2 separate regions of the Homo sapiens genome follow, and region 1 is linked to region 2. The links come from fine-mapping of genetic effects on gene expression. A gene starts in region 2. The other region holds a variant in brackets. All regions are shown on one strand. Distances are from middle to middle. Region 1 overlaps LRRC69 (leucine rich repeat containing 69). Region 2 holds the start of LRRC69 (leucine rich repeat containing 69).

Region 1 (8,221 bases), 120 kb before region 2:
ACATAGGCATGGGCAAAGATTTCATGACAAAATGACATAAGCTACTGCAACAAAAGGCAAAATTGACAAACAGGATCTAATTAAACTAAAGAGCTTCTAGAAGCACAGCAAAAGAAATTATTATCAGAGTGAACAGGCAACCAACAGAATGGGACCAAAATTTTGCAATCGACCCATCTGACAAAGGTCTAATATCCAGAATTTACAAGGAACTTAAACAAATTTACAAGAAAAAGACCAACAACCCCATCAAAAAGTGGGCAAAGGATATGAACAGATGCTTCTCAAAAGAAGACATTTATGTGGCCAACAAACATATGAAGAAAAGCTCAACATCACTGATCATCAGAGAAATGCAAATCAAAACCACAATGAGATAATCTCACTCCACTTAGAATGGTGATTATTAAAAAGTCAGGGAACAATAGATGCTGGTGAGGCTGTGGAGAAATAGGAATGCTTTTACACTGTTGGTGAGCGTTCCACTGTTGCTGGGAGTGTAAATTAGTTCAACCATTCTGGAAGACAGTGTGGCTATTCCTCAAAGATCTAGAACCAGAAATACCATTTGACCCAGCAATCCCATTACTGGGTATATACCCAAAGGATTATAAATCATTCTACTATAAAGACACATGCACACGTATGTTTATTGTAGCACTATTTACAATAGCAAAGACATGGAACCAACCAAAATGCCCATCAATGATAGAATGGATAAAGAAAATATGGTACATATACACCATGGAATACTATGCAGCCATAAAAAATGAATGAGATCATGTCCTTTGCAGGCACTTGTGTAAAGCTAGAAGCCATCATCCTCAGCAAACCAGCACGGGAACAGAAAACCAAACACCACATGTTCTCACTCATAAGTGGGAGTTGAACGTTGAGAACACATGGACACAGAAAGGGGAACATTACATGCCAGAACCTGCTGGGGGATAGGGGATGAGGGGAGGGGACTTATAGGATGGATCAATAGGGGCGGCAAACCACCATGGCACCCGTATACCTATGTAACAAACCTGCATGGTCTGCACATGTATCCCAGTTTTTTTTTTTTAGAAGAAATAAAGAAAAAAAACAAAAACACTTTTTCAACAGCTTAGGTTATAAGAAATTATTTCCCTAATCAAAATCAATCTACTGAGCAATTTTCCCTCAAAATAAGCACACATACTTTACCCCTGTAACGCATTTTTGATGAGCTCATTTGTACTTGGTTTTTTATTTTTGTTTAAAATGCATTCTTGGTTAATGGAGCCTTTAGAAAGTTACCTTGAGGCCCCATCTCTGTCTCAGTGGGGCCTGAACTTTGCTCTCTGGTTTGAGGATCTCTTTGCTGTGCTCCATTGATTTCATTTCTCAGTTATGCCAGAGGCAACTCTGATGCATAAAGAACCTGAATTAAACTCATAAAAGGCCTTGCTAGGAAGGTAACCTGATAATAACTACCTGGAAGATGAGAGACTCCACTCAGCTTTCCACCAGAAGGACCATACGTAGTGACAAGAAGAAATAGATTTCTGGTGGGGTTTAAATATGAAATTATAATGACATTTCTCACTTTTCTGAACATGCAGCAGCTTTATCTAAGTCTATCCTGTGGTTCTCAAACTAGAGCATGCAAAGAGATCACGTGGAGGGTTTGTTAAAATAGCGATTTCTGGGCCACACTCCCAAAGTTTCTAATTCAGTGCTTCTGGAGTGGAGCCAGATAATTTGTATTTCTAACACGTTCTCAACTGATGTGGATGGTGCTGAGTAGAACACAATTCCAAGAACCACTGGTCTGTGCAAAGCACACCACATATTTTCATAACTTATTTTTCTACTTTTCTGTTGTCCTTAAAGAAAATGAGCACAATTCTCATTTCTGAACTACTGCCTCGGCAGTTTGTCGTGTAAAAAGTTTTTTTAAAACGAGAAAAAAAAATTAAAAACAGTCACAAAGTGATATTAGGGGTTATCAAACCTGAGTTTCCAGGCTTCTACTCATTTTTTCTGTGAAGGTCAGTAGATATTAGTGCCTCAAATGAAATCACACAAATATAATACGACTATCTAGCACAAAACAGTGATTCCTTTTCAATTGCAAAACATTCATAAAATAAATACTTTTCCCCGTCAAAGTCTCTTAATACTCACCTAGAAAAAGGGGAGTGGTAGTCATAAAACAGCAGGAAAAAATAACTCACTTGCCACACAAATCTTTATTTTTCAATTTTTTTTTGTACTTTTTTAAGCCAAAAAAAGCACACCTAGAATCTAAGCAAGCTGAAGGCAGATTGTAGTGCTTAGATTGGGAACGTTATAATGGAATTATTTTTCTTCCTTTATTTAATGTGTTGACAAAGAGAACAGGCATGGTATCTTAAGTAGGGCATAATCTGTGTATGCAGAGCTGACAGGGCAAGTGGAGTGAGGCTATGAATGAGCACCTCACCTGTTCTACACCTGAGCAATTCCAAAGAGGTTAGGGTCACGTTGAGTAAAACATTTGTAAGAACAAATTAATACTTGGAGAGGCACCAGCTTCAGATTCTTGCTTATCTTCCAGTCCTAAAAAGTAAAGATTAAAAATAAAATTTAGGCAGTGTTCAATAAGTATTTTTCATTAAAATAAATATTTGCTTTCTCAGAGGTTTCAGAACATTGACTTCTAAAGACGCACTATTCTATTTATGCTTGATTTGCTCTTTTCTCACACATAAAAACACAAACTTAACTAGCTAAGAAAATCATACTCAAATGCTAAACAAAATCCAAATGATGAAAGATTATGTGTGCTTTTATTCAAACATATCATTATGTAGTCTAACCATAAAGTGTTTGAAATGAAGGTGAAAAAATGATACAGAATCTACATGAACCTGACTTTTGTCCTTCAGGGGTATTAAATTGATCAATCAGCAAATACGTACTGAACTTCTTAATGGGTATCTTGGTTTTACCTGCCCAGCATGCAGTTGCCATGGAAATTAATCTTCCTAAAATTCTTTGTTCACTGTCTGTACTATTCATTAAGATCTTCACTGGCTGGGTCTCAGGCAAGTTGCCTAATACATGAATTAAATTTTTGTACTTCAAAATAATTTGTACAAAATAAGCAGTCAAAATCCTGTTAGCCAATTTAGTGCACATATATTGACCATTTATGTTTGAAATAATGGTAACCTCAAAAGCTTACCATTTCTATGTTTTATAATCATGTCCTGAAATCAACACAGCTCTCAGTGAGAGAATCCAAAAGATTTCCACAACTGGTAACTGGGAAATATTTAATTGGTTGATAACGCTGCTTAGTTTTACCATGAAACCATTTGGCCAACACCATCACAACCCACAATGAGAGATTTGATTGCTGTTCTGTTCACTCTTCCACAAAAGAACTCTGAGATCCTATTGAAAGGTTCAGACAGGTAAGCACAGTTATTGATCCACCCTTGAGAGAGTAACAGCCTTCTAACCCTGGTGATGTATCAGCAGGGAGCCAAAGTCATAAGTCACATCCCCTTCACACAGACCTCCAACAGTGGCTGTGAAGCACTTAGAGGATACACAGCACTATCCTAACTGTAAAATATTTTGGATGAAGGTGAAAAATGGTATAGAATATCTACAAACCTGACTTTTTTCCTACAAAGATATTAATTCATCAATCAGCAAACAGGTTCTGAACTCCTCAGTGGACGTCTTGGTTTTTCCTGTCTGGGATCCATTTCCCATTGTGCTGGCACAAAAGCCCTGTTTTTCCTTTGGGCAACTACCACTCCTCCAATCTCAGTGCATATGCTGGGGGAGTGAGAGAGCAACTTTTCTCACTCCCTGGCTCAATATATGACCATGTAACTGCGGCCCAGGCAATGACTCAATTGCTTCCCTCTGACAATGGTGATTAGTCTGGGGTAAGCACATAAGGCAAGACAGTTCAAGGAAGCCAATGAACATCAGCCCCAGGACATTCTCTGCATCTATTGGGAGAAGGAAGCTCTCCCTTTA[C/T]TCCCAAAAGACACAATTTAGGCAGCAGCCACTGGAAAACAAAGCCAAAACAAAGGAATGCAGAGATAATAAATAAAGGACAGATTCCTAATGATAAATTTGGAAACCTAATTTAGACATGACAAAATCTTCAGCCAGATTCATCCCTGGACCTTCTTCATTGCTTAAGTTGGTATATGAGTTGGGTTTCTTTAATTTGCAACCACGAGTCCTGACAAATTATAAGTTACCTAAAATCTGCACATTAGGCAAAGTGTCAGGCTACAAAGATATACAGCAAACAATCCCTGCCTCTAAGAATCTTAGCATCTAGTTGGAAAGACAATAATCATACACACACACACAAATAGAAACATATGGCTCAGCCCAAGGATAGGTTCTATATGAGTGCAGAGACAGGAGACACCATAGGCTGCATATTAAGCAAGATTTCACAATATAAGAAAAAGGTGAGCTGGGTTTTGAAGGTTGACTAGAATGTGTCTGCCTGGGGAGAAACCAAAAGGACATTTCGGGGAGGGTGAACTATGAGAGCATAAATTCAAGAATGTGCACATTGTATTGGGGAAACAATACAGTATAAACTATAAATAGACCATAAAATGTTAAATCATGGGATATCAACAATACATTAGTCCAGAAATAAAAAGATTTCATAAGTATTTTTGAATGACAGACACATATAATATTTTAAATCTACTATATAAGATATAATATTGATTCCCTAACTAGATTATAATGATTAAGTGATGAAATTGTGGTTGGAGAACAAATGGCAAAAGACAGGCTAAATATGGTCTTTTCCTTTTCCATATACTAGACAACCGTCTCACCCAACCAGTTAATCCTGCCTACTTCTGTAACATATCTCAGCTAGAATTAAAGAACTATTGAAAATAAAACATGCTACATACATTTTCCTCAGCTCCTCTTTAAGAAACCTGAACAATTAATAGAGCCAAGAACCAAGAGGAGGAAGTTAGAGAAAGAAACAAATATAAACTAAGGAAACAAGTTCGACATCTGATTTGCTTTGTCCAGTTTCTTCATGAGGTGAAAAGTTTATAATAGAAAGTATTAAAGGCATTTTCTATTTCCAGTGTGGTTTTAGCCATTTCCCTTGTGTCATTAGGACATCGCATGGGCAGAGTTTAGGTTGGCTCTTATTGCAAGCAGGAATGCAAAGTGTCTGTGTCCCTCTTTCCCCTTCTTGGGGGAAACATTGTTTAGTTAATTATAATAAAATGAATATTTTGGTGAGATTTTTAGAAGTCTATTAAATGCCCGTTGTTAGTTTTATAGTGAACATGAAACTTTGAAGGTGATTATTCTCCAACTTAATAATTTCTATTTCTTATACAATATTTTTCAGGGCTATGAATTGTTTTCTAGAAATTTAACTTAGAAAAACAACTCAGCATAATTTCTTGGTATTACACTTTTCCATCTAGATTCATCATCTCTAGTAATGTTTGCATAACATGAAATTCTCGTACCACCTTAACACTTGCTGCCCTTTTAAATTTGTATTTCTATTTGTGGCATTATTGCAACTGTTTCTACTGGTACGACATATGTCCATTTGAAATGAGCATGTTACAAAGGAATAAGACACTCCCTGTTATAGAGGACCTCTCTTCACAAACCTCAATTAACAAAACCTCATGATTTTGTCAAAGACAAATACTGCTTTTGTCATTGTTTATAGATAGAGATCAAAGCACTCAATGAAATATCCTTTCTGTCAAGCCAAGGTCAGTGAATAGGAAAAGGAGTTGGTCTGTGATTATATATGCTTTTATTTTGAAAAAATATCATTTTAGCAAAAAGCTTTAAAAAGTAAAATGCTATAATACAGTTTACTTTTTCACCATTAATATTTGCATTATTTTCTAAAGCAAACAAACACATGATTATATTCTCTACGTGTTTTTTAAAAAGTAGTTTTCCACTTTAAATTCAAATATTACTCTTTGCTAAGTTTTATGTTTGTTGAATGGTAGAATTGAGAAATTTTTAAAAATCATTCAACATAATTGGTAACCATCACTGCCATATTTTAAACTTTGAGAAATTAAAAATTATTGCAATATATATTTATATGGCACAGTAAAAAGTTTGGATAAGATTTCAATATTATATGAAGCACAAGGAATAGAAAAAGAGCATAAGATGGTTTCCTGTTTTCTCAGGAAAATGTATCTCAGTAGGCAAAATAATGTCCCCCCAAAGATGTCCACATCCTAATTCCTGAAATTCATGAATATGCATGTCACCTCACATAGCAAAAGGGACATTGCAAGTTGGGTTAAATTAAGGACCTTGAGATAAGGAAGTTACCCTGGACTACCTAGGTGGGCGCCATGTAATCACAAGAGTTGTTAAAGTGGAAGAAGGAGATAAAAGAGAAGGTCCAAGTGAGGTGATATGAGAAGGCCTAGATCAGCCAATACTGACTTTGAAGATGGAAGAAAGGAACCATGAGCCAATGGATATGGGGAGCCTCTAGAAGCTGTCAAGGGCCAGAAAATGGTTCCCCCCAGGAGCCTCCAGATGGAAACCCAGCCTGCAAAATCTTGATTTTTGCCCAGTGAGACCCATGTTGAATTTCTGATCTACTTGACTGTAAAAAAAAAAAAAAAATTTCTGTCAAGTCACCAAGCTTTGGGAAATTTGTTAACAGCTTCAATGGAAAACTAATACTGTTATCATGTTCCAAATTAGCAGGACTTGAAAAGCATAACAATGGCAGCCCTCCCTGCTTATGGAATCAATGCATTTTCATGCTAGAAGAGACTGGTCTAATCCCTTCATTGTCCAAATGAGGAAATTAGTCCTGATATAGTAAGGTAGATGACTTACCTTAGGCCTCATATTTCAAGGTAGAGACAAGATTAGAATCTAAGTTCACTAAATTATAGCTTAGTGTTAGTCATTGTATGATTCCCAGGCTCTTTCATTAATGAGGGTTTCTATTATAGCTTAATAGCAACTACAGAATGGTTTAGAAGAATGAACAGTTGTTGGAAAGTGCACATGTTTTCAAATAACATACTGAAGAAGTATATTTCTTTTCCATGCCAGTCTGTCTCCAACTGAGGGTTAAACGTATTCACTTGAATTATCCAGGCATCACTTGAAACTCAACATGTCTAAGATACAACTTGGGGTCTTGCCTCCCAAACCAGCTCCCTTCTGGACTCTTTCTCCTTCACACCCCTCAGAGGTTTCCCATGCTCAATCAATCAACAATTTATATTGTCCTTCCTTCCTTATGATACTTTCCTTGCTTTTCCACCACCACACCTTACACCCACAGTAGGAAACCACTCTAACTAGCCTCTTATCTTCAGCTTCTCTTCTCTTCAAACTTCAACTAAGCCAGCACACTATTGCCAAGTGACTCTTTCTAAAACACACACACACGAACACATATATATCTCACCGGTTTTCCCCCACATGTTCAGTAGGGTTTCATTTCCAAACAAGATCAAGTTCAAACCCCTTACTTAATCTAATCCTTTGACAGGTTCATGGCATGTGACCTCAACTTTTTAATAATGTCTCCTCCTGCCACTCCTATCCACAAACCAACCTAACTGATTCACTGCCCTATGAACATGATTTATTCTCCTCCTTACCATTCTCTTCTCCTAAAACATTCTGTTTACTTTCTTCTCCATGTATCTGAATTCCACCTATTTCAAGGCTATATACAAGTCCTGTGTTTCTAGGCACTTCCCAAACCAGACAACCTACAGTGATCTCATCTTCCACTTTGAATCCTAAAGCAATTGGTCTCTATCACTCATTTAATATCTAGATTTTATTGCTAATATCTTTTACCTCTTTAGCATTTAAACTCAAATTTTAAACCATTTGGAACAGACTAGGTCTCCTACTTATTCGCATTGTACTTAGCATTCAGTTCCCTGCTTAAAGCAGGCCCTCAAAAATTTATGGAATGACTAAATATAATTTATCACTGCCATGCCACAGTGATAAGTGACATGAGTACTGCTCTGAAGTTAACTACTCCATTTAGCAAGGGTAACCATACATTGGGATTTGCCAAGGACAGTCCTGGTTTCCTGTTGTTTTTACAGCTATTAATAAAATCCACTTTTACTCTCAAAAGCATCTTGGCTTAGACGACACATTATATGGTCATTCCACCCTTAGGGCAATTTGGACTGTGATAAGAACAGAAACG
Region 2 (8,221 bases):
TATGAGTACAGAAATTTAAAAGTAGTGTTTTTGTTTTAGGAACTTAAAAACAAATCAAGACTATGTTAATACTTTGCATTCTGTGGGAAATATGACCAAAAAATCAGTATATTGGGGCAAACTGGACTTCATATGATGATAAAAGGCTACTTCAAAAGATAAACACTGTAGACATAAAACAAAATGAAACAAAAGTCATAGGTAGATGGGTAGCTTTAAACATTACTGATAAACGGTATGACTATAGCCACATAAGAAAGAGTTCAAATTAACTTTAAAAGTACACGGGAATTTTAGAGAAAACTGTTAGAATAAGAATTATAATCACTGAATTTTGACATACACATCACCAAGTTATAAAGCCCACAAGAGACACTCTGTGGCATCAGTCAGGTCAGCTGAATGTCACAATACACCCTGCCCCTTCTCTCTGCTTTATTTTTCCCCTTAACACTAATCACCGCCTCACGCCCTATTTTGCTTATTTGTTTCTTACATCATTCCTGACTAAAACATAAACTCTATGAGGGCAGAGATTTCCACCTGTTTTGCTCATCACTGAATCACCAGTTCTGAGTGCCTGAGACACAGATGGTCCTCATTGCTTATTTGTGGATTAAATAAATGAAGGCAGAAATTGAGGCCCAAAGAAACTAAGTGCCTTGTATATAGCTGGTAACTGCTGAACCAGTTAAGTTGTGCCAGCACTTCTAAACTCTCCTTTTCAATTCTCTAAGCTGTCTCTTTCTTTGAAACCTTCATCTGCCTTTCCTTTTTTTTTTTTTTTTTTGAGACAGAATCACTCTGCAGCCCAGGCTGGAGTGCAGTGGTGCAATCTCAGCTCACTGCAACCTCCCACATTCCGGGCTCAGGCAATCCTCTGGGACCAGAGGCACGTGCCACTGTGCCTGGCTAATTTTTATTTTTTTGTAGAGATGAGGTCTCACTATGTTGCCCAGGCCAGTTTCAAACTACTGAGCCCAATCAATCTGCCCACCTTGGCCTCCCATACTGCTGGGATTACAGGTGTGAGCCACTGCACCGGGCCATCTGCCCTTTACTACCAACTGTGAGACGGATGGAGCTGTATATCTGAACTCTATGATAATCTACAACCATTCTTTGAGGGTTTCTAGCACATTTTATCTAGCATGCTTCTAGAACTCCCATTACATAGGGAAAATTGTGTTTTTTTTTCCAAAATTCCACAATTTCTCCAAGACCCTATATAAGAAAAACTACTAGTTCATGAACAGCTAAACATAATACCATTGGCCTGAATCTGACTTTTAAAGTACTTTAAAGACAGAATAGACTATAAGCAGCCTAGTTGCAAATCAGTTGAATTCTTAGTGGTGTAATTTCTTCTTTAAAAGTAAGCACTGGGCTGAGACAGCTCCCTGGTGAAGGAACTAAGAGTGAACAAACAGAAGTCAACACGTAGGTTACCCCTAAATAGAAGAATGAGAGGGCAAGTAACAAAGGGAGCCACAAGAAGAAGACAATGTAATGATAATCAGACTCTTGGGGCTTTTTCCTATGGAAATATATCTTGGAATGTGTAACTTTTTACTAAACAACTATTAACCAAGTGTGAGACAAGAATACAGAAATTTTCAGATATGCAAGGGATCAAACAATTTAACTACCACATACCCAGACTAGGATGATTTCTCGAGACTCCTGAAAAACTAAGAGAGCAAGCCAAGAAAGGAAAATACAGGATACAGGAAACAGTGGGTCCAATTTAAGAGAGCAACAAAGGGAATGTCCTTGGCTGACAGTATCTAGCAAACCTAGATAGCAGTCAACATAGAGTGGGGCAGAGGATGGAGGGTCTTAGAGGGAAGTCTCTCAAGGAAAAGTACATTTGACAGAAAAAAATTATACAGTTTGAAATAAAATGAGGCTACCATAAAACTAAGGCACAAGAACAAAGGAAAGGTTATTAGAAACTCCAAGGGAACAAAAATGGCATATAAGAAAGAAAATATAATCATAGATTAATTGACTCCATGTGAATATTTATTTATTAGTAATATATATTTTTAGAAGTTTAGAGTTACCCAAGACACAAAACAAATATTTAATTATGGTTATAACTGAATAGGATATAAAAGCTGTAAGTGTTATAAAAGTAAAAACTTCAGAGTTTGTGAGGGGGGAGAGGAAAGGACAGCTGAAGGTGGATTACAAAGGCTGACACTGTCATCTTACGAAGTGGGGAGTCAAAAGAGACTGCAGTTGATGAAGGAAGAAATAAAGGTGTAGTAACATTACATGTAAAAGATACCTGTAGACCTAATCCCCTGATTCCAGATGTGGATCAATACACAATAGATACATTAATATAACTGTATCTAGAAGATGAAGAAAAATGATGCCAAAAATAGACAAATCAATAAAATAGATGAGTTAAAAGTGGTTATATATGGAGATCGGGATTGAGGATGAGGGGAAGTGGGATAGAAGATAGCTTCTTGCTATAAGCTTTTTGTAATATTTAATTCTCGGTAACCAATGGTTAGTACTACTTTAATGGAAATAAATTCAAATAGAGGGAGAGAATAGGTTCATGACTCAGTCAAGTCCCAAATTCTTTTGCAAAGAAACTCCTCTTTCCTATTAAAAAATTCCAAGTCCTTGTTGTCTTGTAACTACAAGTATACCTTCTGCAATTACTAATGAAGGGGGACTTTGTAAAAGTTACCCTATTTCTTATAAAGATACAACTACAGATTACAAACTCAATTTCTTAAACGTAAAAGGAAATGAGGTAGGGTGAAAGTAAGAAAATACAGATTTATTTTTTGGAACTGTAAATTCAAAATTAATGAGCTATAACGCCTTAGCTGCTTCTAGGTTCTTCCTGTGCTGATGACAATTCAGCAGTGAACAAAAAGAAAATTACAAAGTTAATATCCCTTGCCTTCTCTCAACCTCAAGATTTTTGGCAGCTAGAGTTTCACATTGTTAGGCAGAAAGGTTTAACACAAGCATATGGGATTCATTCATGTCAACTATTCCTCTTTAAAAAAGAATATTTTTTATTTAAAATATTAAACTTCCTTTAAAGACTATTTCAGGAGAAATAAATGTCCCCTCCTTCCTATTCCCTGCCAACACTCCATTTCAAAGTTTCAGCCTGCCCTAGGAAATTGAAAAGGAACTCCCTTGCTGCATCCTAAATGTCTCTTCATTCTAAATGCAAAAGCTTCAGGACAGTCCCCAGGGTGAACAGCATCTCCTGGATCCTCAAAACTACTTCCAGATGTAAGCCCCCAAGATAGACGACCAGATCCAGGTTTCCAACCCCTTTCCAGATGACAGCCTCTAAAAAGATGAGTGTGGCAGAGACCTAGTCCCCTGACTCCAGATGTGGGCCAAAGAGCACATGAATAAATTGAAACATCTCTCCCTACCACATGGAATTCCCTAAGGGAGAAAGCCTTCTGATGCCTCTCCAGCAACACTCCACATTAAGTCTCCAGATACCTAAGTCTCCATAGATCGAAGTGTTATTGTTCTGTCTCTTACCCCTTTTTTCTCTCTTCCTGTTTTCCATCTTCAATACCAAACCACAACAGCAAAACACTGTTCCTCACCTGGGTCAAGTTGCATAACTCTGGACACACTTTGGGGATTAGGTTATTCTGAAGGACTAGAGTCTTCAGGCCAGGCAGTTTTCCTAATGCTGAGGGCATCTTTGTCATCTTCTTCCCATTCAAAGTAATGATCTTCGTATTTTTACCACCACTCAATGCTTTTATTAACAATCTCTCAGTCATGATCTTGGAAAAGAAGTAGAAAACAAGGTAACCATTAGAGTTCTTTATTATACAGCTTTAGAACCTCTAATTACAGAATTGGTGTGTCATAGAAACAAGAACATTCTGAGATCCACCATGTTGAAGGGGGGAAGCATTAGATTATTTTCCTATGTGAAAGATACGAAAGGAAAGTAGATGGTCCAGGTTTGGGGCAGGAAATGTATAATGTAAGCCTAAAATAGCTTATGCCTGCGATATTAAAGCTATCAGAGATTAATGAGGACACAGAAGTGAACTTCTAGGAGCTCCCACTAGTCTAAGATGGAAAATATTAAGGATCAGAAAGAAATAATCTAGAATAGACTGAAACATATCAAAACACATTAAAATCTGAGTTCATAATGGCATTTTTTAAAAAGAAACATTACTCACCCTGGGAATTACTAGCGCACCAACTCAGTCTGAAAATTGATAAAGGAAAAAATATAAGCATTTATTCTGCTTTTCCAGTACAAACTGCACTTAAATATAACTTAATAGTTAATAAAGTTCTTATTCACAAGAATTGAAACTAATAAATGAGAAAGACAAAATAACTAGAATAATCACAATTTTTGCAAATTCTAATAAAATAATGGAGCTATGCAAAAATCATAATTGGAGACTGAAAGTATTAGATGAAAGGTTGATGAGGAACTTTATAATCAAGTGATCAGGTTAATAACCCACTAATCATTTTAGCATCAATAAAATTGAGACAATCACATTATAAGCCTTATGAAGTAATGAATTAAAAAGTACACAGCAGCACCACCTATGAAATGTTCCTGTCCAAAAATTAAATCTGAATCTAATCATGGCTTCAAGATCTAACTACCATTTACAAAAAAACAGAACTAGAGAATAAGTTAAGTTCATTATAGGGAAACAGTCAAATCTATAACATGGAAGATTCTACAGGACTGGTCCCTGGTCCAATGTCACAAGGTTTCACCAACAAATGAAAGACATTAATAAAAAGGAGGGAAAACTGTTACGATGTAAGTGAAACTTAGGGCAAATAACAGCTAAATGCAATGTCTGGACTGTATTTGAATCCTCAGTTGAATACAAACATCTCAGGGAAATTTGTTCATCGGCTATTAGATGAGAGAAATTAATTCTGTTACATGTGAAAATGGTATGGTGGTAGTATTTATTTTAAATGTGCTTAACATTCAGAAATGCATACTGAAATTTTCAAGTGAAATAAAATGATATCTTGAGTTTTTTTAAAAATAATCTAGGGGGGAAAGTGGGTGGAAGAAACTGATCAAACAAGATTGACAAAATGTTGATAATTATTAATGCTGAGTAATAGACACATAGGGGTTTGTATTTGTCCATTCTCGCACTGCTATAAATACCTGAGACTAGGTAATTTATAAAGAAAAGAGGGTTAATTGGCTCACAGTTCTGCAGGCTATACAGGAAGCATGGTGCTGGCATCTGCTCAGCTTCTGGGGAGCCCTAAGGAAGCCTACAATAATGGTGGAAGGCAAAGGGAGAGCCAGCACTTCACATGGCCAGAGCTGGAGGAAGATAGGAAGGAGGTGCTACACACATAAACAACTAGATCTCAGGATAACTCACTCACTCACTAGCAGGAAAACAGCACTGAGAGGATGCTAATGCATTCATGAGAACTCCACCCCCAGGATCTAATCACCTCCCACCAGGCCCAGTCTCCAACACTGGGGATTATAATTGAACATGAGATTTTGGAGGGAACACAAATCCAAACCATATCAGCATTCATTATATTAGTCTTGTTATTTTTGCATATGTTTAAAAATTTCCAAATAAAAGATTTAAACGGTGACAAAAAGGAGAGGGAGGGGAGTTGTGGCCAGTAACATTTGATTATTATCACAAGCCCACTAGCACCCAGATAGGATGAGTCTTAGAGGCATTAGGATTACACATGTATGTGACACACTTAGATGTGGGTTTCCAAAAACTTGAACATTATAAAATACATTCTGCACTGAAAGTGATCTGAACAGAAATCAATCCTTCCTTTGGCATTCAGAAATCACTTTATTTATTTATTCAACAAATATTTACTGACCACCTACTACATAGTCAACACTGTTGCAGGAGTGAATGAAAAAGATAAAAATTTCTGTTCTCAAGGAAATTCCATTCTAGTAGGGGAAGAAAAGCAATCAGATAAGTAAATCTATTATGTTAGATGGTGATTTGATGCCAAGGGGGAAAATCTAAGCAGAAAAGAGAAATAGGGAGTGTGGGAAATGAGAAGTTTACAATTTTAAATAGGATGACCAGGAAAGGCCTCACTGAGAGAATGCTATTAGAGACAAGACCTCTTCCAGTAAGAGAGTAAAATCAAGTGCCAGAATTCTAAAAAAGGATCATTAAATTTTTAAAGGGATTATAATGAATATCAATATCATAACAGTAAATCAAGAGATGCTAATAGTGACTTTCAGTTGCTAGAAAGATAATTTTTCAGCTTCTTAATCACTGCTGTTTGCCTTCCCTCTTCCAAACCTATGCTTCGTCTTCTTTACTTTGATATTATTTGTTTCCTAAGAATAATAAAGCTGTTACTATCAAAACAAACTGATCACAAGGCTTTGTTTAAAAAAAAAAAATCCATGACAATCACCACCTCTTAAGTAAATATCGGGTGGCTAGCATCCCAGATGACACTGTCCAAACCCTGGAAATTTGTTACTGCTTTAAGTAGGTAAACAAACCAATACAATCTGACACTGCTTTCTGTTAATCTGCTGAACCTAGAAAACCTGGTTAACATTCTTGAGTCTTTCTTCTCCCTTACTTCCAATATATAATCAATCCTATTCATACTGTCTATTCCAGTTATCTATCACTGGGAAACAAACCACCACACATCTTAATGGCCTAAAACATTTATTTTATTGACAAATCTTTTTTTTTTTTTTGAGACAGAGTCTCACTCTGTCGCCCAGGCTGGAGTGCAGTGGTGTGATCTCAGCTCACTGCAAACTCTGCCTCCCAGGTTCATGCCATTCTCCTGCCTCAGCCTCCCAAGTAGCTGGGACTACAGGCACCCACCACCACACCCAGCTAATTTTTTGTATTTTTAGGAGACAGGGTTTCACTGTGCTAGCCAGGATGGTCTTGATCTCCTGACCTCGTGATCCGCCTGCCTCGGCCTCTCAAAGTGCTGGGATTACAGGTGTGAGCCACCACACCTGGCCTTTATTGACAAATCTTAATCTGGGCAGGGCTTGCCTATAGTTCTCTTAGTGACAGCTATAGCAGCTCAAAGTCTGCAGCAGAAACCATCTAAAGGTTCACTAATCCACATCTGGTGGTAGATACTTCTTGTTGGCTAGGGCCTCAGGGTGGTCAGCCTCTACATGTAGCCTCTCCAATGTAGCTTGGACTCCCTCCCAACATGGTGGCTTGGTTTGAAGGTTGAGCATCCCAAGAGAGAAAGTGGAGTGGAAGCTGTATTACTTTCATGACCTTGCTTCAGAAGTCATACAGAATCACCTCTACCACATTTTATTCATTAGAACCAAGTGACAGAAACGAGCTCATATTCAAAGGAAGACAAATTAGACTCTGCCTCTTGAAGGCAAGTGACCAAAAATTTGTGGACATGTTTTAAAACCCACCACAATCCACCCTGTAGCCATGAGCTGTTTACATTCCTCCCATATGCAAAACAGAGGCACTCTTCCTGGAAAGCCCCTTTCCCCAAAAGTTTCATCTATTTAGAACCTCAGGTTCAAAGATCTTATCATCAAAGTTAGGTACAAAGGTAGATGAAGCTCCTCTGAGGCAGTTCCTTGAGTTCAGCTTGAGTGCAGTTCATCCTGACCTGAAGACCTATCAACTAAAGAGACAAGTTATCTGTCCACACATACCTAGAATACAACATAGGTAAAACAAAGGGCAGGCAATAGTTAGTCCCATTCAAAAAAAAAAAAAAAAAAAAGGGAAAAATCAGAGGAACAAAGTAGCCACCGGTTCATAGCAATTCTGAAATCAAATGAGGCACAAGGTTGTCATTATTTTTGTTTCTTGTTTGTTGTTTTTGAGATGGAGTCTCGCTCTTTCACCCAGACTGGAGGGCAGTGGCACAATCTCCGCTCACTGCAACCTCCGCCTCCTGGTTCAAGCAATTCTCCTGCCTCAGCCTCCCGAGTAGCTGAGATTACAGAAACGTGCCGCCATGCCTGGCTAATTTTTGTATTTTTAGTAGAGACAAGCTTTCGCCATGTTGGCCAGGCTGGTCTTGAACTCCTGACCTCAGGTGATCCACCCGCCTCAGCCTCCCAAAGTGCTGGGATTACAGGAGTGAGCCACTGCACCCAGCCCACATGTACTGCCTGGGATTAGCTTTTGGTTCCCGTTTGGGCTCTTGATTCCATCCTCTTGAATTTCTTTCCTTT

Evidence for each region. PIP is the estimated chance that this variant, and not a neighbour inherited with it, causes the effect.
Region 1: its variant is fine-mapped to the expression of LRRC69 in whole blood (TOPMed, PIP 0.92).

What each region holds. Positions count from the first base shown.
Region 1 is chr8:91,213,237-91,221,457 of GRCh38, reverse strand. It overlaps LRRC69 (leucine rich repeat containing 69), which reads right to left. Exons shown (of 8, transcript NM_001129890.2): 8 at 2,201-2,568. The coding sequence ends at 2,458. It also overlaps a transcript of SLC26A7 not described here. Among named protein-coding and RNA genes, the nearest start is that of MIR4661, 12 kb to the right of the region's middle. The variant C/T (reference allele first, on the strand shown) is at 4,009.
Region 2 is chr8:91,098,229-91,106,449 of GRCh38, reverse strand. LRRC69 (leucine rich repeat containing 69) reads right to left here and starts at 3,831. Exons shown (of 8, transcript NM_001129890.2): 1 at 3,606-3,831. The coding sequence starts at 3,788.